Regions from separate parts of the Homo sapiens genome. Here regions 2, 3 and 4 are each linked to region 1. The links come from fine-mapping of genetic effects on gene expression. A gene starts in region 1. Each other region holds a variant in brackets. All regions are shown on one strand. Distances are between the middles of the regions.

Evidence for each region. PIP is the estimated chance that this variant, and not a neighbour inherited with it, causes the effect.
Region 2: its variant is the best candidate, but not a certain one, in a credible set for the expression of ZNF425 in lung (TOPMed, PIP 0.55).
Region 3: its variant is the best candidate, but not a certain one, in a credible set for the expression of ZNF425 in prefrontal cortex (BrainSeq, PIP 0.79).
Region 4: its variant is the best candidate, but not a certain one, in a credible set for the expression of ZNF425 in nasal epithelium (TOPMed, PIP 0.53).

Annotation. Positions count from the first base shown.
Region 1 is chr7:149,123,694-149,129,340 of GRCh38, forward strand. ZNF425 (zinc finger protein 425) reads right to left here and starts at 2,631. Exons shown (of 4, transcript NM_001001661.3): 1 at 2,503-2,631. The coding sequence starts at 2,520. It also overlaps the pseudogene RN7SL521P and a transcript of ZNF398 not described here. RefSeq lists enhancers at 545-1,045, 1,046-1,546, 1,794-2,345, 2,346-2,897, 3,561-3,610 and silencers at 2,056-2,229, 2,961-3,400.
Region 2 is chr7:149,213,168-149,218,814 of GRCh38, forward strand. It overlaps ZNF282 (zinc finger protein 282), which reads left to right. Exons shown (of 8, transcript NM_003575.4): 7 at 534-647. Among named protein-coding and RNA genes, the nearest start is that of ZNF282, 20 kb to the left of the region's middle. The variant A/C (reference allele first, on the strand shown) is at 2,774.
Region 3 is chr7:148,686,530-148,692,176 of GRCh38, forward strand. No RefSeq gene overlaps it. Among named protein-coding and RNA genes, the nearest start is that of CUL1, 9.6 kb to the right of the region's middle. RefSeq lists a silencer at 4,552-4,778. The variant T/A (reference allele first, on the strand shown) is at 3,448.
Region 4 is chr7:149,097,167-149,102,813 of GRCh38, forward strand. ZNF425 (zinc finger protein 425) reads right to left here. Exons shown (of 4, transcript NM_001001661.3): 4 at 5,618-5,647. Among named protein-coding and RNA genes, the nearest start is that of ZNF786, 9.3 kb to the left of the region's middle. The variant G/A (reference allele first, on the strand shown) is at 3,126.

The DNA of each region.
Region 1 (5,647 bases):
GCTAATTTTTCTATTTTTAGTAGAGACCGGGTTTCGCCATGTTGGCCAGGCTGGTCTGGAACTCCTGACCTCAGTTGATCCGCCCGCCTCGGCCTCCCAAAGTGCTAGGATTACAGGCGTGAGCCACTGCGCCCGGACTTGCTTTTTCTTTTTTTTTTTTTTTTTCCTTTTTGAGACGGAGTCTCGCTCTTTCGCCCAGACTGGAGAGCAGTGATGCCATCTCGGCTCACTGCAAGCTCCGCCTCCCGGGTTCACGCCATTCTCCTGACTCAGCCTCCCGAGTAGCTGGGACTACAGGCGCCCACCACCACACCCGGCTAATTTTTTGTCTTTTTAGTAGAGACGGGGTTTCACCGTGTTAGCCAGGATGGTCTTGATCTCCTGACCTCGTGATCCGCCCGGCTCGGCCTCCCAAAGTGCTGGGATTACAGGCCTGAGCTACCACGCCTGGCCTGGCCTTGCTATTTATTTATTTATTTTTGAGATGGAGTCCCCTCTGTCGCCCAGGCTGGAGTGCAGTGGCGTGATCTTGGCTCACTGCAAGCTCCACCTTCCGGGTTCACGCCGTTCTCCTGCCTCAGCCTCCCAAGTAGCTGGGACTACAGGCCCCCGCCACCACGCCCGGCTAATTTTTTGTAATTTTAGTAGAGAGGGAGTTTCACCGTGTTAGCCAGGATGGTCTCGATCTCCTGACCTCATGATCCGCCCGTCTTGGCCACCCAAAGTGCTGGGATTACAGGCGTAAGCCACCACGTCCGGATGGCCTTGTTATTTTTACAATGTGATTTCAACCAAATTCCTCTACAGTTTTATTGTACCTCACCCATATTTTTTTGTTGTTGTTGTTGTTGTTGGTTTTGTTTTTGAGACGGAGTTTCGCTCTTGTTGCCCAGGCTGGAGTGCAATGGCACGATCTCGGCTCACTTCAACCTCTGCCTCCTGGGTTCAAGCGATTCTCTTGCCTCAGCCTCCCCAGTAGCTGAGATTACAGGCATGCACCACCATGCCAGGCTAATTTTGTATTTTTGGTAGAGACGGGCTTTCTCCATGTTGGTCAGGCTGGTCTCGAACTCCCGACCTCAGGTGATCCGCCCGCCTCAGCCTCCCAAAGTGCTGGGATTACTGGCGTGAGCCACCACGCCCGGCCACCCATGTGTTTTCCACCTATAAAATTCCCATTTATGACCACATTTACAATTAGCATTAAACTGCTACAGTGGAAAGGAAAATCAAGAAAACGATTTTTCCTTGCCTATCCCAAATAATACATTAGCCAATAAACTGTTACCACATTTTCTATAAATTCAATGTACAAAGAAGAGCTACCACAAACTTTCCCAGAACAGAGAGGAATATTCCAGGAGATTCCCAATCACTTAAAGAGGAGAGAAAAAAAGAAAGCCTGGCTGTAGAAACAAAGCTTGGAGAAATCAGAAAAGAATCTGTACCTGCCAAAGGAGGGTGGGGAAAAGGAGTGGGAAGCAAAAGGGAAGAATCAAATGCAAATAAGGAGCATTACATTCCTAAGATTATAAAATTTCATTGGGGGCACAAGAAAAACTTGCACACTTAAGCAAGTTATACTTAACTGAATGTAACAGGGTTTCTTGGATTAAGCCTCAGGATACGCCTTTCAAACTCTAAAACCGGTGCTCAAATTTTCAATACTACATTACAATACTACAGCATTTACGGTAAATTCGATTTACGCTAACCACCCAATTCATTTTAAGTTTTCTGTCCTTTCCTAGAGGGAGCGGTCTCCAATTTCTCTCAGTTCCAGCTTTCCTTCTCCTTTTTCTCATCTGCTTAACACTGATGTGCTTCTCTGAAACTACCTTCAGCAGGAGAGCACGGGCCCCAGAGAGACCCCGAGGTTCAGAGCCCCGACACTGAAGGCAGGGACAGCGTTGTTGATCTGAGCCTACAACAGGCCGAGAAACAGATCTTTCCCACCCGGATTCTTTCTCCCAAACCAACTTTTATTTATGTATTAAACAGACGGGGTCTGGCTGTTGCCCAGGCTGGAGGGCAGTGGCTATTCACAGGCGCGATCCCACTAACGATCAGCACTGGGGTTTTGCCCTGCTCGGTTTCCGAGCTGGGCCGGTTCCCCCTCCCTGGGGAACCTGGTGGTCCCCGCTCCCGAGAGGTCACCACACAGATGCAGAACTCAGAGGCACCGCGCGACGGACCTAGCGCATATACAGCGCAGAGCTCCCGGGCTCAAGCGCTGCTCCCGCCTCAGCCTTCCGAGTGGCCGGGGCCACAGACGCGCGCGGCCAAGCCCGGCCAGACCAGCTTTTCCCCAGGTCAATTCCAGAACAGCACACGCAGCAAGACTGCACCTTCTCCAGCCCAGCCCGGAGCTCAGTCCGTGGGCCACTGCCAACCCCCAGGCCCAGGCCCCGGCCGCCCCACTCCCTGGACGCGGACCCCAATCCAGCTGCGACAGGGACCCGAGTTTCGACAGAGCCTGCATCCTCCACCGGCCCTTCTTACCGAAGCCGGCTCGGCCATGGCGGTTCCGCACGAACCGGCCCTGCCTGGCACGGCCTCCCCTCCGCTCCGCCCCAACCCAACTCCCAGGTACAGCCCTGCTGGCCCCCAAAGGCAGAGCCGGCCGGGCGCGGTGCATGCTGGGACTCGGCGCTCGGAAGCGGAAGCCGCTCCGCCCCATAGCGCCCCCTGCGGGCGGGAGGAGCGGCGCCGCCAGAGGGAGTCGGTCCTCAGAGGAGGGGCCCGGGCACCCTCCGTGCGGGCCGCAGCACGCCGGTCTTTGAGGGACCCTTGGACTCCCGGATCTGCATGCGAGGGATGCGGTCGAAGACGAGATGAGGGAGCTGACGGGAGGGGAAACGGAGGGGCAGGTGAACATGGAGAGAGCAGGAACAGGGAGAGAGTAGGGACAGCGACTGGGAGACGCGCTCCACAGAAACCCGGACTGAGAGGCAGCGAGAGGGTGAGAGTCCGGTGCTGTTCCTTCCAAAGCTGCCCCCAAGTCAGGGATGAGCTCGAGGGTTTCGTTTGTGAGGGGGTCCCGGGAATCCAGCGAGGCCGGGTAGGTGGTGGGGGGCGCGCGGTGGCCCGGGGTGTCCGTCCCGCCGGGGGCGCGGAGGCCGTGTGGGCCCCGGGCATGTCCCGTCGGGGACGCGGAGGAGGGGTCCGCCCACCACGTCCGGTCCCCGTGGGTGCAGCGCCCTTCTGGGCTCCCCGAGCGTCCACACTCCCTCCTTGGCAGAGAAAGGCCTCGGGCAGAGACCCCATGCGGAAGCCACCCCGGCCTCGGGGCCGCCTGCGGGGACTCAGGGTCGCCCAGGGATGCGGGCCGGGCACCCCTAGCCCCCGGCGGGAGACTGTGACAGAGCGGGAGAAGACGGAGGAGGCCATGACACAGGGCGTGAGAAACACGAAGACGCAAAAACGGGAGAGGTGGGAAGACGCAGAAGGGGAAACCAGGGAGAGACAGAAAGGAGAGAGAGGGCAAGGAAGGGGGTGGCGACTGTCCCCAGAAAATCAACCTCGCATTCTGTCCTAGTCATGTTTTAGGTGTCAGGCTAAAGTAACAAATGAAAAGTGTGTAGTTAGAAAGGATGTCCATGAGAAAGTAGTCCCTGCATAGGCTGAGGAGCGTGTGCACATCTGTATTTGTCCCGGAATCGTGAAATGTAGATGCACCTTACTGATTAAAGGGTTAAAAAAAAAAAACCTTACATTAAAACTAACGTTTCGGATGGGCGCGGTGCCTCACGCCTGTAATCCCAGCACTTTGGGAGGCGGAGGCGGGCGGATCACGAGGTCAGGAGAGCGAGACCATCCTGGCTAACGGCGAAACCCCGTCTCTACTAAAAATACAAAAAAAAAAAAAAAAAAAATAGCCGAGCGTTGTGGCGGGCGCCTGTAGTCCCAGCTCCTAGGGAGGCTGAGTCGGGAGAGTGGCGTGAACCCGGGAGGCGGAGCTTGCAGTGAGCCGAGATCGCGCCACTGCACTCCAGCCTGGGCGACAGAGGGAGACTCCATCTCAAAAAAACCAAAAACAAACAAACAAAAAAACTAACGTTTCTTTGGGTGTAAAGTTCTATGAATTTTCACATATGTATGTATACGTGTAGTAACCACTGTAACCAGGATACGGAAGAGCCCTGTCCCACCCTGAAACTCCTTGTGCTGCCATTCTCTTCTGTGCTTCATTTGCTTTATGGTCACTCCCTCCGACACCTGGATCCTTGGCAAGGACTGATCTGCTCTTGAAACCTAGTTTTCTCTTTTTAGAAATGGTATATAAATGGAATCATACAGTATGATATAACCTTTTGTGACTGGCTCCTCAAAAGCGTAATGCTTTTGTGATTCATCCATGTTTACGAAGAGTCAAACTGTAAAATATTTAGAAGTTTATTCTGAGCCAAATATGAGTGAGGAAGGCCAAGGTACTGTCTGAAGAGGTCCTAAGAACATGTATCCAAGGTGGTTGGGTTACAGCTTGATTTTACACGTTTTGGGAAGACTTAAGACATCAGTCAATACATGTAAAGTGTACACTGGTTCTGTCAGGAAAGGCGGGACAACTCCAAGCGGTGCTTACAGGTCACAGGCGGATTCAGCGATTTTCTGATTGGCAATTGGCTATCTGAAGACCAGGTTCATAGAAAGGAGTGTCTGGGTTAAGATAAGGGGTTGTGGAGACCAAGATTCTTAGGATGTCTCATAGTGACTGTCTTTAGATGGCAAAAATTTCCTATTTAAACCTTTAAAAGGTGCTAGATTCTCTGGCCGGGCGCAGTAGCTCACGTCTGTAATCCCAGCACTTTGGGAGGCTGAGGCAGTAGGATTGCCTGAGCACAGGAGTTGAAGACCAGCCTGGGCAACATGGCGAAACCCCATCTCTACAGAAAATACAAGATTTTGTCAGCACAGTGGCAAAGACGTTAATCTCAGCTATTTGGGAGGCAGAGGTGGGAGGATTACTTGAGCCTGGGAGGCGAAGGTTGCAGTGAGCACAGATTGTGCTGACACTACAGCCTGGGTGAGAGAGGAAGACAGAGGGAGACTCTGTCTCAAAAAAATAAAATAAAATAAAATAAAATTATATATATATATATATTGTTTGTTTGTTGGGTTTTTTCCAGACGTAGTCTTGCTCTGTTGCCTAGGCTGGAGTAGAGTGGTGTGATCTTGGCTCACTGCAACCTCCGCCTCCCAGGTTCAAGCGATTCTCCTGCCTCAGCCTCCCAAGTAGTTGGGATTACAGGTATGTGCCACCACATTGGGCTAATTTTTGTATTCTTAGTAGAGATGGGGTTTCACCATGTTGGCCAGGCTAGTCTTCAACTCTTGACCTCGTGATCCACCTACCTCGGCCTCCCAAAGTGCTGGGATTACAGGCATGAGCCACTGTGCCTGGCCCTATATTTTCATATAAATATATAATATATACTGCAAAGAAGCATATTTGGGGATAAAATATTTTGATTTCCTTCTTTGTCATGCAATGTTATGCCAGAGTCAGGTTGGAAACTAAGCGGTTATATAGGGTTAAATAAAACCCTTCTGGTGAGATTTTTATAGTTTGTAGGGCATGATTTCCTATGTCCCTTAGTTAGAAATTTGGACAAGAAAGGAAAAAAGGTCACAATTTAGTTGGTAT
Region 2 (5,647 bases), 89 kb after region 1:
ATACCAGGGAGAGAGGATGAGAAGTTGAATCTAGGATTCCTTGTACTTTGTCAACTTCACCACAGAGAAATTGAGGGGACCCAGGGCAGAGGGAAAGCGGGGCCTTCCTGCTTCACTGTGGTTCTTATCAATGACCTCTGGTTGCAGCCTCTGCCATCGCTGGTTTCTAAATCATACCTGTTAGCCATGGCCCTGAGGGCCGTTATCTGGGGCTTTCTTCTGGCCTGTCCTGGCCCCATGGGTTCCTCTGGGGCTAAGTGGCAGAGCTGGGAGATCTGGGTTTTAATCCCGGCCCTGCCACTGCACAGACCTTGGGCTAAGCCTCCTTCTGGCCAACTTGAAATGCATCGAGCAGTGAGAGTCCATTTAGGAAGGGGCTTATGAGGGTAAGGAGGATGGCCTGGAAATGCAACACCGATACCAAAACATGCCCTGCAGGTTGCAGCCACCGCATGGGATGGTTTTCAAACCTTTGATGGGAGGCCGAGTAGAACTGAACAAAATCTAAGACTGCCTTCTTTCCATGACAACAGAGTCTCTCATCTCAGCACATGACATTTTGTCATGGATCAAGCAGGAGGAGCAGCCATACCCATGGGGACCACGCGACTCAATGGACGGAGAGCTTGGATTAGACTCTGGCCCTAGTGAGTAACGTCCCCACCTAGACCCTGGGGTTTCTTCTCTGGAGCTGTACAGCTGAGGCGTGGACGAAGGCTGGTCCTCTTCTCAGCTCACCCCTCGTAGGGTGATGTTCTGTTGATGGCAGCGTTTCAAAGTTCTGCACCAAAGCACTCCCATTCTTTTTGGAGTGTGATATTGTATTAGCTCCCCAGGACTGTCATAACAGGGTACCACAGGCTGGGCAGCTTCAACAATAGAAATTTATTCTCTCACAGTTCCACAGGTTGAAAGTCCAAAATCAAGGGGTGGGCTGGGCCTTGCTCCAGACTTCCTCTGAAGTCTGTATGGGATTCCTCCCTCGCCTCTCCCAGCTTCTGCTGGGTGCCAGGAACCTCTGGCACTCCTTGGCTTGTAGATGCGTTGCTGCAAGCCTCTGTTGTCACATGGTGTTCCCTTGTGTCTGTCCTCACATGCCATCTTATAAAGACACCAGTCATATTGGATCAGGGCCTCCCTACTCTAGTATGACCTCATCTTAACTAACTACATCTGCAATGACCCCGTTTCCAAATAAGGTCACATTCTGAAGTCCTGGGGGTTAGGACTTCAACATATTTGGTGGGGAGGGGGGAAGGCACAATTTAACCCTTTATGGCAGGGAGGGGAGGAAGGGAGAGGGGCCGGGAGATTGCTGAGCCAGTGTGCCCGAGGCAGTTGACAGCAGCAGGTGGCTCACATGCTGGAAGACACTAGCCAGGCTGCACACGGTGGCTCACACCCATGATCCCAGCACTTTGGGAGGCTGAGGTGGAAGGATCTCTTGAGCTCAGGAGTTTGAAACTAGCCTGGGTAACATAGTGAGACCCACAGGGTCTACAAAAAAATTAACAAATTAGCCAGGCGTGGTGACTTATGCCTGTGGTCCCAGCTACTCTGGAGGCTGAGGTGAGAGGATCGCTTGAGCCTGGGAGGTCATGGCTGCAATGAGCCATGCTTGCACCACTGCACTCCAGCCTGGGCGAGAGCGAGATCCTGTCTCAAAAAAACCTGAAAGAAAAAACAAAAAACACTAGAAGTACCCCAGGCATCCCTGAGCTACCATCCCGGAGTCACTGATGAACACACTGAAGCTCAAAGAGAAAGGGAGGATTGTTTTCCCAACAGGTATGGAACCAAATGTCTCACCAGACTTGGGTCTCTTGGGTCTTTCTGAAGCTCCCTTATTGACCTATGACCCTAGGCATATGTTTATGGATTGTTGAACATTCTTAGCTCAGGCTAATATTCCTCGCTAAAACCCAGTACCATCCCCTTGCCCTCAACATGGCTGACCTAGTGTCTTCTGGCTGGTCAAAGGCTTAACAGAATAGCTGCATGTGTGTTCCCTGTCCATATTTCCTGACATTTTTTTTTTTTTTTTTTTTTTTTTGAGACAGAGTCTCACTCTGCCGCCCAGGCTGGAGCGCAGTGGTGCGATCTAGGCTTACCACAACCTCCGCCTTCTGGGTTCCAGCAATTCTTCCACCTCAGCCTCCCGAGTAGCTGGGATTACAGGTGTGTGCCACCATGCCTGGCTAATTTTTGAATTTTTAGTAGAGACGAGGTTGCACCATGTTGGCCAGGCTGGTCTCGAACTCCTGACCTCAGGTGATCTGCCCACCTTGGCCTCTCAAAGTGCTGGGATTACAGGCATGAGCCATAGTGCCCAGTGCTGACATCTTGAAGGAGCTTAAACTTCACGTAAGAGCGGAGGACATGGGTTGTTTCTGGTTCTGAACAGCCATTTCAAACTCAGGCAAGCGGATCACACTCTCTATAAGACAACTTAGTTCTAGAAGAGCCAGTGTGGGCCTGGAGGAATTGGCAGGAACGAGATAGGAACAATGTATGTCCTTATTTCAAGTAGAATTGAAAGCGGTCCTCTTTGTAACTGCTGGCTTGGTGGGATGAGATGGGGGAAGCCAGGAAACTGGTGGTGAGCACCGGAAGAAAGCCAACTCCATCTCTTCCTCCACAGCTGGTAGGCTACCATTGCTAGCCCTGGCCCGAAGGCATAGGAACTAGTGCATCTGACCTGGGGCCAGGAAATTCTGCCCAAACCCTTCCTTATCCCTCAATGCTGTCTTCTGATTCTTCCCAGTTGGCTAGG[A/C]GCATGTGGGCCTAGAGGAGCCTGTTCTTGGGGACTTGTGCTGTGTGGAAAGCAGTCTAGGAAGGCCCATAGAGAACTTGCAAGGATTTGCAAAGGACCCCACCATTTTCCTACTTAAGTTTGGATATCATAGAATGATTTGCCTCATGTTGTTTTATCTTTTTTTTGTTTGTTTAAAGACAGGGTCTCACTCTGCCGCTCAGGCTGGAGTGCAGTGGTGTGATCCTGGCTCACTGCAGCCTCCATCTCCTAGGTTCAAGTGATGCTCCTGCCTCAGCCTCCCAAATAGCTGGGACTACAGGCATGCACCACTGTGCCTCAGTAATTTTTTAAAATGTTTTGTAGAGATAGGGTCTTGCTATATTACCCACGCTGGTCTGAACTTCTGGCCTCAAGCAATCCTCCCACCTGGGCCTCCCAAAGCTCTGGGATTACAGGCAGGAGCCACCAGGCCCAGCCCGTTATTTTATATTTGAAGGACCTTTGAACCCTAGCATTTGGGAGGAAATGCACAGAATTTAGGAGATAGGAGTATCTGGAAATGGTTCTCTTGCCTGCCAAGTCACGACAGCCTCTTATCAGAACCTCTGTTCTTTCTCCCAAAGTGAGCCTGCTTCCTATTTATCAGTGTTGGAATTTGACACTGGCCTGTCATCTGTGGTTTCTTTGATGTTTAAAACCAACCTAGTATTGTGGTTGCCAGGGACAGCCAGATGGTAGCCATGCTATTATGTGGAAGAGTCTTCTGGAAAGGGGATGGAGGGGAGAAGAGTCAGGGTAGAGAACACAGTGCAGACACGGGATACCTGTCCTTGCCAACTTCCTTCTCCAGCCCTGGGATATGTAAGAGGGAAATAACTGGTATCCGTTTGACTCAAAGGCAGACCTCAACCCAATTGGATATTACATTCTTGTAAAAGGGACTCCTGAATTTATTTATTAATGAGTGTATACTGAGTCTCGCTCTCAGCATGTTAGTGTAAGACAAGAAGAAGATTCAGTTTGCCCAAAGTTAATGTACATCAGTGCCTCCACTGAAGCAGGAAGCGTAGCTAGGACTCTGGAGTGCAGTGGCTAAAAGGTGCTTCCGGAGTGAGAGGTGGTAAAGATCCTGAAGCTGGGCCACCATTCCCAGGTGCCAACACCCACAGAATATGACGTGAAAGCACCCTCTTGAAATTCCCACATTATTCACTACATTGGGTTAAAACAGTGGTTCCAACCTTTCATAGTTTATATTTTTTTTAGCAGGTATTTACTTAATGCCTGCTATGTGTTACACAGTATTGTAAGCACTTAGAATAAGCAGTGAAGGGCCAGGTGTGGTAGCTCAGGCCTGTAATCCCGGCACTTTGGGAGGCCAAGGCAGTTGGATCACCTGAGGTCAGGAGTTCCAGACCAGCCTGGCCAACATGGTGAAACTCCGTCTCTACTAAAAATACAAAAAACAAACAAACAAACAAACAAAAAACAACTAGCCAGGAGTGGTGGTGGGCACCTGTAACTCCAGCTACTTGGGAGGCTAAGGCAGGAGAATTGCTTGAATCCGGGAGGCGGAGGTTGCAGTGAGCCAAGATTGCGCCCCTGCACTACAGCCTGGGTGGCAGAGTAAGGCTCTGTCTCAAAAAAAAAAATTGGGAGTGAAGAAAGACCTTTTCTTTTGTGGGAAGAGGATGAATAAGCAGGCCAGCAAGCAGGCAAGGTAAAGCCAGGATGCAGCAATGCTCTGAGAACAATGGCAGGGAGAACAGGAAGGAGTGTGGACATGAGGCAGAGCAAAGACAGAGTGGTCAGGAAAGGCCTCCGAGGGGAAGCGGTGCCTGACTGAGTGTGCCCTTGGCAGTGGGAAGGAGCCGGCCGTGGGGTTGCAGGGGGAAGAGAAGACCAAGAAGAGGGAAGTGAAGGCAGGGCCATGGAGGCTTTGGGGAGGAGGATGGAGCCGTAGACTGAGGCACCTGAGCATGTATGACCTATGGGCCAAGTTAGAGTTTGGATTTTATTCTTACAAGAAAGGAGACTAGGCCGGGTGTCATGGCGGGCACCTGTAATCCCAGCTGCTCGGGAGGCTGAGGCATGAGAATCCCTTGAACCCAGGAGGTGAAAGTTGCAGTGAGATCATGCCACTGCACTCCAGCCTGGGTAACAAAGCGAGACCCTGTCTCAGAAAAAAAAAAAAAAAAGAGAGAGAGAGAGACTAATAAAGGGTATGAAATCGGACATGATCTGGTTTACGTTTTTATAGGATTTCAGGAGTGGATTGGCGGGGGGTGCGGAGCCATGTCTGAGGCTCATGCATTTGATGCAGACCAAGTGGAGAGATGCTGGTGGTCAGAGCTGGGGTAGCAGCAGTGCACAGGGAGAGAAAGGACAGATTCAGATGCACTTTGAGAGTGTCACTCATGGGTTGCCTGTGGGGGCTGTGGAATCAAGACTGACTCCTGGGTCTGGGTCCTACAGAAGTGGGTGAATGGTAGTACTGTTTGCTGAAGTGCCAAGCCCTGGAAAAGAACCTGTGTTGCTGGTTCTAGTTTGGAGTCAAGAGTTCTAGTTTGGACCTATTAAAATTTGAGGTGACACTCAAGTAGCAGATCAAGTAGGTGAATATAGGAGTCTGAAGTTCAAGAGAGAGCTTGGGGATAGACTGATTTGGGAGTTACAGGTTGCAGTGACTTCCAACATCAGCGACCTGTAATTGGCCAAACCTCACAGGTTGAGGGCTCATGCCTCCACAGGACCGTTCTCTCTTCAGACACCAGCTGCAAATTTGGGGGTTCTAGGCCACCCTCACTTCTGACCAGCTGGCTACAAATTCTGGGCTTCCCATCACCCCGTCATAATTTGCTAGAATGACTCATAGAACTCAGGAAAGTGCTA
Region 3 (5,647 bases), 440 kb before region 1:
GTCCAGGCACAGGCTGGGATACCTGAGTCAATCTTTTTCCCGTGGGAGCCTCTCCCTTGCTTCTTCCCACAGTCTTCCTCAGACTGACAGCAGAGCTGGAAAAAGCACACCTGTAGCACCAATCCAATGGGATTATATCCTGCTCTGTGCAAGGTAGAGCCACCCTTCCTTCCCTTGTCTAAGCTAAAAAGCTATTTTTCTCACTACAGGGAAGCAAAACAAAAAGTAGGTCAGTTAGCAAGTGGTTTATGAAGTGCTTACTCAAGAAACACATCTCGGTAAATGCTTGACTATTTTTCAAACATGTGTGTACCCTGGGATTTAAAAAAATCACTTTATTTTGACCATTAGAGTTTTATATTCACTCTTTACATCGACTCATCTTATTCTATCAGGAAAACTTAAGTGTCTTAAGCGTCTGTGGCTCCGAGTAAATTTCTGTCTGTTACCAGTTTCTTCCAGGTTGTCTTGCCGGTACCTCCAAAATACAAGTGCCCTTGCACTGTCCAAGGAGCATTTCTTTCAAAGGCAATTAAGTCGGCTGTCTTAAAATAACCAGGGATTAGATTACTGAATATTTACCCATTTCTAATCCTTTAGTAAAAGGTTAGAGCTGTTGGAAGGAAAGAGGTAGGAAAAAATAAAAGGAAATATCATTGACAAAAGAATCAGGGGCCGGGTGCCATGGCTCACGCCTGTAATCCCAGCACTTTGGGAGGCCGAGGCAGGCAGATTACAAGGTCAGGAGATCGAGACCATCCTGGGCAACATGGTGAAACCCCATCTCTCCTAAAAATATCAAAATTAGCCTGGCGTGGTGGTGCACACCTGTAATCCCAGCTACTCGGGAGGCCGAGGCAGGAGAATCGCTTGAACCCAGGAGGCAGAGGTTGCAGTGAGCTGAGATTGCACCACTGCACTCCAGCCTCAGTGACAGAGTGAGACTTCATTTCAAAAAAAAAAAAAAAAGAAGAAGAAGAATGAGGAAGACATATTGGCTTCCCAACTGGGAGGAAAATTTGAGTTTTTCTCTTGAATATTTAGTTGCCAGCCTCCCACCTACGTTGTCTCTCCTGCTCTCCTACCCAATCATGCAAGGGGAATCTTTGAAATTCTTGTTTTCATGTTGGTATTTCTCTCTTGTTTAACTGTTAAGGTCACAGAAACAGACTTGTAGGCTGATGCAGTCCTCAGAGGAGCCAAAACCAGAGGAGTTGTGGTTAATAGCACTGACTAAGTTTCTGGGACATTATCAGCAAAAATAACATACAGCTCTCATTGTTCAGTGAGTTTGATTTCTGAACTTACTCTGTCAGCAGAACTAGCCAGATTTCAACTGTAAATTAATCCAGATTTCAACTATAAATTAAACATATATTCTTTAAGATCAGGCGCAATGGCTCATGCCTGTAATCCCAGAACTTTGGGAGGCCAAGATGGGCAGATCACCTGAGGTCAGGAGTTCAAGACCAGCCTGGCCAACATGGCGAAACCCCGTCTGTACTAAAAACACAAAAATTAGCCAGGCGTGGTAGTGCGCACCTGTAGTCCCAGCTACTTGGGAGGCTGAGGCAGGAGAATTGCTTAAATTGGAAGGCGGAGGTTGCAGTGAGCCGAGATTGCCTCACTGCACTCCAGCCTGGGTGACAGAGTGAGACTCTGTCTCAAGAAAAAAAAAACAAACAAAAATACCTTTATTCTTTAAAAATGGTCGGAGAAATTAGGCAAATTCTAAAGCGGTCTCCTCCCTTGGCATCCCATAGAAAAATTAACTGGCAAAAAAGTACCTTTTCCCATAAAGTGGCAGTATAATATCTTTCTAGTTATTATCTGTTAATTGATGATTTCAGCCTGCCAGCTCCATTTTTCCATTCCCAGAGTGAATATCAAGTCAAAAGCAACTAACCCTACAGACCAAGAAAACAAAGCTCTAAAGCCATTGAAATTTCTTAAATTCTCTGTGTACATTATCTTAATACTATAATTGTTCTTTAAAATACATCATATAAACAAATGGTGTTGATGGGCTATGCCATGTTCCTGGCATGAATGTAGTATGACCTGGAAAACACACTTCATCATTCATGACTAGAATGTTCTCTCTGATTTATGCCAATAAAAACTTGGAATAATCCAAGATATACTTTACAAGTATTACATGAGAGCATGCATGCAAGAATTGTGACTCAAACACTTAAAACCCATTTTTGGCAATTGAAAAAAGAAAGTTCGGGAGGAGGAGGGGTTTGTCAGAGGTCTTTTGCTTGGTGTTTATTAAGAAACACCAGGATACAGTGAGGGCAAAGAGGCTGAGGAAACTTCAGAGAGAAGATGACATTGGATCAGGAACCTGAGGAATGATTGAGATTTCTCCACAGAAAGAAAAAGGAAGAGGACATTTCCAACAAAGGAAAACCAGGAGCACCCAAATGGCCTGGGAAGCATCTGCCTGGTTTCAAGTGTGTCTGCAGCACAAGGTCTAGGAAGAGACGAGGCAAGAACAGACACTGGGAAAAGGGACTGAGGTCTCAGCGTGAAGATGATTATTGAATGTCTTGTTCCAGTACGTGAAACCATCAAAAGTTTGTTTTGTTTTGTTTTGCTTTTTTGAGGCAGAGTCTCACTCTGTCACCCAGGCCGGAGTGCAGTGGCGCGATCTTGGCTCACTGCAACCTTCATCTCCCTCCCGGATTCAAGCAATTCTTCTGCCTTAGCCTCCAGAGTAGCTGGGATTACAGGCGTGTGCCACCACACCCGGCTAACTGTTATATTTTTAGAAGAAACAGGGTTTCACCATGTTAGCCAGGCTGGTCTCGAACACCTGACCTCAGGCGATCCTCCCACGTTGGCCTCCCAAAGTGCTGGGATTATACACGTGAGACACTGTGCCCGGTCCCATCAAAAGTTTTTGATAGCTATATTAACAGTGATAATAACATACTAATGTTTTCTATGTATCAAATATCCAACACCAAGAAATGCTGTAATTTATTTGTTAAAATCTCCTGTGAAGTGTCAACTATTCCCTGTTTTTTTGTCTTGTTTTGTTTTTTTGAGAAGAGTCTCACTCTGTCATCCAAGCTGGAGCGCAGTGGCACGATCTCGGCTTACTGCAACCTCTGCCTCCGGGGTTCAAACAATTCTCGTGCCTCAGCCTCCCATTACAGGCGCCTGCCACCACGCCCAGCTAGTTTTTTTTGTATTTTTAGTAGAGACAAGTTTTCACTGTGTTGCTCAGGCTGGTCTCGAACTTCTGAGCTCAAGCAATCTGCCTGCCTCAGCCTCCCAAAGTGCTAGGATTACGGTGTGAGCCACCACGCCTGGCCAGTATTCCCATTTTATAAGTAGGAAACTGAGTCATAGACAGATTAAATAACTTGTCCAAAGTCAAACAGGAAGTAAGCAGTAGAGCCAAGATTTAAACCTGGGTGCTAGCTCCAGAGCCCA[T/A]GCTGTCTTGCTTCTTGAGGAAGTCATGACCATATTTTAGAAAAATAGCTCCACAGCTGTGTGGAGGATGAATTGGAGGAGACCAGAGGCAGACAGACAGTGAGGAGGCCCTTTCAGCAGTCCAAATGAAAGCAAATACAGGAACAAACTCAATGGGATCTAATAAACAAATGGAGCAGGGAAAGGGCAGAACAGGAAATAACTGAGGCTGCTAACTTGAATAACTGGGCAGATGGTGATGCCAATATAAGAGACAGAAAAACAAAGGAAAAGATATGAGATGGGTCAGGGGTAGAATAAGGAATAATGGTCTTTATTTGAGGCCAAATGGTTTGAAATATGAGGGACGTTCAAGTAGAGAGGTCTGGCAAGCAGCTAGAAAATCAGACCTGAAGTGTGGGAGAGGTCAAGCTGAAGACAGAGATGGACCGCTACTCTTGAAGGTAGCAAACGTTAACTTCAGCTCTCCTCACCCGCATGGGGTCTTCCAAGCACCTGGCAAGGGCCTTAGCAATATGTTCATGTTGTCATGTTTCTTTTTTGTAAAAATTTCAAAAGTAGGTTATTTTTGATGTGATTAAGACCAAGACTGTTACCTCTTTCCACCCTAACATCTTCTTCACACGTCCCCCCAGGTCAGGTGGCACTGGAGTCCTCTAGGCATTTTGGGGGACCTGTTTAGGGGCAAGATAAGTTTGAGATACAATATAGGTTGGGCTTCATGGGATACATTTAGGGGAGTTCCGTGTGTAACTAAGTTATTGCTAGCCATCCTAGCATAGACATTTTCTTAAAGAGTACTCCTGTGTTAAATTATATAAACTTCAAGCACCATGAAACCTAGAAGTGTCCCTGAATAAAGTCGGAGATGATAACTTGACATAGATGACAAGTGAAACTGACAAGATCACACAAGAAGAAGATGTAGCAAGAAAAGATGGCCAAGAATGGAACCTTCAGGAACCCACATTTAAGAGGAGGGTGGAAGAGAGCCAGATGCAGAAAGATTTATCAGCTAGAAAAGCCATGAGGGCATAAGAGTCTGGGAGTCAAAGGATGAGTGGTTTCATGATGGAGGGGCAGGTAGAACGAACATCAAATGCAGGAGAGGAACTGTTGAACTTAGTAGGTGTGTAGAGATGGGCTGAGTCACTAGGAGGTAGGAAACTTGAGGCAATGAGTATAAATTACTTTTTTTTTTTGAGACAGAGTCTCACTTCATCACCCAGGCTGGAGTGCAGTGGTGTGATCTTGGCTCACTGTAACCTCCGCCTCCCAGGTTGAAGTGATTCTCCTGCCTCAGCCTCCCGAGTAGCTGGGATTACAGGTGCCTGCCACCACGCCCAGCTAATTTTTGTATTTTTAGTAGAGATAGGGTTTCACCATGTTGCCCAGGCTGGTCTCGAACTCCTGACTCAAGTGATCTGCCCACCTCAGCCTCCCAAAGTGCTGAGATTACAGGTGTGAGCCACTGCGCCCGGCCAAGTATAAATTACTTTTTAAAGAAAGAATATCCCATTTGCTACATCCGGGGTATCCCACGTAGTTCTTGTGGTGTTTAATGTTATGCGTCAACTTGGTCGGACCGTGGTGCCTGGATATTTGGTCAAACATTATTCTGGATGTTTCTGTGAAGGTGTTTTTTGGATGAGATTAACAGTCATTGGTGGACTTTGTTTTATTTATTTTTGTTTGTTTTTTCTTTTCGAGACAGAGTCTCACTCTGTCATCCAGGCTAGAGTGCAATGTCACCATCTCAACTCACTGCAACCTCTGCCTCCCGAGTTCAAATGATTCTCTTGTCTCAGCCTCCCAAGTAGCTGGGATTACAGAGGTGCGCCTCCATGCCTCGCTATTTTTGTATTTTTGTATTTTTGTAGAGACAGGGTTTCACCATGTTGGCCAATCTGTTCTCGAACTCCTGACCTCAAGGGATCCACCCACCTCGGCCTCCCGAAGTGCTGGGATTAATTACAGGCATGAGCCACCGTGCCTGGCCTCATTGGTGGACTTTGAATAAAGCAACTTGCCATCCATATGTGGGTGGGCCTCATCAAATTGGTGGAAGGCCTTAATAGAGCAAAAGACTGACATTTCTTGAGCAAGAAGAAATTCTGCCACCCTGATGGCCTTCACACTTGAACTTCAACATTGGTTCTTCTGTGAGTGTCCAGCTTGCCAACCTACCCTGCAGATTTTG
Region 4 (5,647 bases), 27 kb before region 1:
AGAAAATGCAAAAACAAGAGCATACAGATGCCCTCCAGGGGTTCAGGCTATGAGGGGAAGCAGACAGAGTTTCAGTGGGGAGTGCTTTAGAGGAAGGAATTTAGAGGTGCTGGGAGAAGAGACAAGCATATAGCTAAAACATTCCTTTTCTCTGGACTGAATCATGGAATGTGAGGGAGGTGATGTGAGGGAGGGAAGGCATTCCAGACAGACGAGAGTCATGAGAGAATATAATGCACTTGAGAAAGATACATGCTGTGCGATGAGGCTGAGGCTCACATTGTGAAGGTCAAACTGAAGCGGCAGGTCAGGGTCAGCTCACAGGTTCTTCTAGGTCCCGCCACCTCGCCCGGCTAATTTTTTGTATTTTTAGTAGAGACGGGGTTTCACCGTGTTAGCCAGGATGGTCTCAATCTCCTGACCTCGTGATCTGCCCATCTCGGCCTCCCAGAGTGCTGGGATTACAGGCGTGAGCCACCGTGCCCGGCCTTTTCTAGGTCTTATTAAAGAATGCATTTATAATAAAATGGGAAACTTCTTCTTTTTTTTTTTGAGACAGTCTTGCTCTGTTGCCCAGGGTGGAGTGCAATGGCGTGATCTCAGCTGACTGCAACCTCCACCTCCCGGGTTGAAGCAATTCTCCCACCTCAGCCTCCCAAGTAGCTGGGACTACAGGCATGTGCCACCATGCCTGGCTAATTTTTGTATTTTTAGTAGAGACGGGGTTTCACCACGTTGGCCAGACTGCTCTTGAACTCCTGACCTCGAGTGATCCGCCCGTCTCGGCCTCCCAAAGTGCTGGGATTACAGGCATGAGCCACCGCGCCCGGCCAAAATGGGAAACTTCTAAGTATTTCTTGAAGGGACCAATGTTAGAATTGCATTTTAGAAGAACCCATCTGGCAGATGGATGATAAATGTACTGGAGGAAAAAAGCCAGAAGCAAGGAAACCTGTCAAGGAAAACACTATTAAATAAATAAATAAATAAATAAAGTGAGCTTCAAGTAGTAACAACAGAGATAGCGAGAAAGGATCTTGTTTGGGAAGAATCAGGAGCTAGATGCTAGATTGGGTGTAAGAAAACCTAGGTGCATCATCAGATTTATAACTTTGGAGATGAGGTAGATTTAGTATACAGAGGTAGGAAATACAGAACAGTCTAACAAAGAAGGGTAGAGGCCGGGCACAGTGGCTCATGCCTATAATCCCAGCACTTTGGGAGGCTGAGGCAGGCGGATCATTTGAGGTCAGGAGTTCGAGACGAGCCTGACATGGTGAAACCCTGCCTCTACTAAAAATACCAAAAAAATAAAAAATAAAAAAAAAATAAGCTGGGCGTGGTGGCGGGCGCCTGTAGTCTCAGCTACTCGGGAGACTGAGGCAGGAGAATTGCTTGAACCTGGGAGGCAGAGCTTGCAGTGAGCCGATATCGCGCCACTGCACTCCAGCCTGGGTGACAGCACGAGACTCTGTCTCAAAACAAAACAAAACAAAACAAAAAAAAAAAAACGGCCGGGCGTGGTGGCTCACGCCTGTAATCCCAGCACTTTGGGAGGCCGAGATGGGCAGATCACGAGGTCAGGAGATCGAGACCATCCTGGCTAACACGGTGAAACCCCGTCTCTACTAAAAACACAAAAAAATTAGCCAGGCGTGGTGGCGGGTGCCTGTAGTCCCAGCTACTCGGGAGGCTGAGGCAGGAGAATGGCGTGAATTCGGGAGGCAGAGCTTGCAGTGAGCCGAGATGACGCCACTGCACTCCAGCCTGGGCGACAGAGCGAGACTCCGTCTCAAACAACAATAACAACAACAACAACAACGGGGGTAGAGTGAGGGTTGATACAGGTGACAAGTCTTACTTGGGGCATTTTGTGTTTGAGATGTTCATGGCACAAGTTGAAAATATGGATTTATAGATTTGAAAGTCATTAGCACATATGTGGTAACAGAAGAGATGGCTGTACCAGATGCAGCTAGGGACAGCCAAATAGTCACGCACACAAACAGCCATAGCTTGCTGCTGGTTTTGGAGGTGGGCGCGCTTCTCCCTCATTCTTGGTGTTCCTCTCCACTGAGGGGGAGCTCCGTGAGCACAGCACTTGCAGCCTCTGCCTCCTCACCCACTTTGCTCAGGTCATGTGCACGCTGGGCTCTCCTGTGTTAGTTTTATGACTAGTAAAGGTGTCATGTTGATCTTACAGTCACACTGGGGGTTAGGGATTCAACCTGTGAATTTGGAAAGGGGAGGGGACATGATTCCGTTCATAACATGGGGTTACATCTTACTGAATGCCTACTCTTTTTTTTTTGAGACAGGATCTTGCTCTGTCACCCAGGCTAGAGTGCAGTGGCATGATCTCAGCTCACTGTGACCTCCGTCCTGGGTTCAAGTGATTCTCCCATTTTAGCATCTCGAGTAGCTGGGGCTATGGGTGCATGCAATCACGCCCGGATAATTTTTGTATTTGTAGTAGAGACAGGGTTTTCCCATGTTGGCCAGGCTGCTCTCGACCTTCTGCCCTCAAGTGAACCACCCATCTCGGCCTCCCAACGTGCTGGGATTACAGGCATGAGCCACCGTGCCGAGCCCTGAATGCCTACTCTTGACTAGACACTATGTATTTCACATTCATAATCTCATGTTCATCCTCACATTATAGTGTCCATTATTAACTTGGCCTTTATTTCCAGAATCTGAGTACTGGTCATGAAACAATTTATACTCCCTTACTTAGGTGACCAGATTTGGGGGCAAAGACAGCTTAGATAGAAACTTCTACTTGGCTCCTGATAAGCATGAGCATCTGGGAAGTTCCAGGTAATGCTTACCACAGTTCCTTTCTCCTTTCTTGTTTTTTGTTTGTTTTTCTTTGAGACGCAGTTTCGCTCTTGCTGCCCTGGCTGGAGTGCAATGGCGCGATCTCGGCTCACTGCAACCTCCGCCTCCTGGGTTCAAGCATTCTCCTGCCTCAGCCCCCCGAGTAGCTGGGATTACAGGTGCCTGCCACCACGCCCAGCTAATTTTTTGTATTTTTACTAGAGACAGGGTTTTACCATGTTGGCCAGGCTGGTCTCAAATTCCTGACCTCAGGTGATCCACCTGCCTCGACCTCCCAAAGTGCC[G/A]GGATTACAGGCGTGAGCCACCGCGCCCTGCCCTTTCTCCTTTCTTTCTTTTTTTTTTTTTTTGAGAGTCTCCCTCTGTCACCAGGCTAGAGTGCAGTGGCACGATCTCAGCTCACTGCCACCCTTGCCTCCCGAGTTCAAGCGATTCTCCTGCCTCAGCCTCCTGAGTAACTGGGACTACAGGCGCGTGCCACCAGCCCAGCAAATTTTTGTATTTTTGGTAGAGACGGGGTTTCACCATATTGGCCAGGATGGGCTCCATCTCTTGACCTCGTGATCCGCCCGCCTCAGCCTCCCAAAGTGCTGGGATTACAGGCATGAGCCATGGCGCCTAGTCTCTCCTTTCTTAAAGCTACCCCTCCTCCTTGTTCTCAGCTCCTCCCCATTCTCTACCTGCACTTGGTCACTTTCTTCTCCTAATTCCTGCCTCGGTTTGACCTCAGAAGCACTCCTTATTGCTGTTTCTGTGCCAGTCCCCCATGTGTGGACTGGGAGTGATTCTGTAGGCCACTCCATGTACTGCAATCCATCACCTAACTCATACTAGAGAATGCCTGTGTTACCAGTATAGCTGAAAAACAGCATTTATTTTTGTAGATGTGGCTGATTTTCATAAAGGTACCCTCCCCTCACCATTATATTAAATGGAGAAAGTAAAACTTACAGAGCTCTAGTGTCTTGCCCAAGGCCAGAGCGAGGGTCTGTTTTATTTTGTGGGACTTACTCTAAGCCCTGTGCTTTCTGAACTACGTCATGGAACTGCCCCTTCTCTTCTGTGTTCTACTCAGCCCCATGCTTTTGCTTCAGCCACTCAGGGTAATATCTCTCACTGACATTTATAATCCTTTAACTTCTTCTTTGACCTCTTTCTGCAGCATGTGGTACTGTGGGGTACTCATTATTATTATTATTATTTTCATTTGTTTAGAGATAGGGTCTCACTCTGTCACCCAGGCTGGAGTGCAGTGGTGCAAACATGGCTCACTGCAGCTTTAACCACCTGGGCTCAAGCAATCCTCCCACCTCAGCCCCCAAGCAGCTGGGACTACAGGTGCACACCACCATGCCCTGCTAATTTTTCTAAGTTTTGTAGAGATGGGGTTTCGCCATGTTGGCCAGGCTGGTCTCAAATTCCTGACCTCAGGTGATCCACTCACCTTGGCCTCCCAAAGTGCTCAGATTACAGGCATGAGCCACCGTGCCTCACCCATTATCTTTTAAAACTCTTTCTGAAAAGCATTTTTTAAAAATGTCTTTATTTTCACATTATTTTATTTTTAGTTCTGAATCTACCTGTTAAACTGTTGGCATTTCATTTATCTGATCACTGGCACTTTAGTTTTGTTTTTTGAGGTGTACCACATAAATAGCAGCCTATTCCCTACCCACAGGACTGTCCCAAACACAGGCGGCACCTTTTTCCTCTTTGTATAGATGCTGTGATTCTTTTTTCCTTTTTTTGAGACAGAGTCTCGCTCTGTCCTCCAGGCTGGAGTGCAGTGGTGAGATCTCGGCTCACTGCAAGCTCCGCCTCCCGAATTCACACCATTCTCCTGCCTCAGCGTCCCGAGTAGCTGGAACTACAGGCACCCGCCACCACGCCCGGCTAATTTTTTGTATTTTGTATTTTAACACGGGTTTTCACCGTGTTAGCCAGGATGGTCTTGATCTCCTGACCTCGTGATCTGCCCGTCTTGGCCTCCCAAAGTGCTGGGATTACAGGTGTGAGCCACTGCGCCCGGCCGACGCTGTGATTCTTGTAGCGACTTTGATCCCAGCAGATTCTGACTTCGGTAACTGGGGACCATGTTTTGTGCAACACACACAAAATTTATGAAGGTACTCAAATTTCCTAAGGAAGGCTGTAAGTTATCCTAACAGTAATGTCAAAGGCTGGGTGCGGTGGCTCATACCTGTAATCCCAGCACTTTGGAAGGCCGAGGTGGGCGGATCACGGATGTCAGGGGATGGAGACCATCCTGGCTAACATGGTGAAACCCCGTCTCTACTAAGAATACAAAAAATTAGCCAGAAGTGGTGGCAGACGCCTGTAGTCCCTGCTACTCGGGAGGCTGAGGCAGGAGAATCACTTGAACACAGGAGGTGGAGTTTGCAGTGATCTGAGATGGCGCCCCTGCACTCCAGCCTTGGTGACAGAGCGAGATTCCATCTCAAGAAAAAAAAAAAACGAGTAATGTCAAAGATTGACAGTCTGAGAGACAGATGAGGGTTTGCCAGAATAGCCTGGAAAATCTTATAATGTTAGATTAGGCGACAGGGCAAAAAAAAAATAGTGGTGCTGTGGACTGACAGTATTTTATCCTTTGGTATTTTCCTCAGAGACCCTAATGTTAAGTATAGTTCTTTGAGAACTGACATAACACTGTTGAAAATGCAGAGGGGTTAGATAAATAACACTGCCTGTTACTCACAGTGGTGGACTTTTAGGTGATTTAAGTAAAATTCAGAAGGAAAGAACACATGGGTAATCATTTTAACAAATGAGATAGTGGAAGACATTT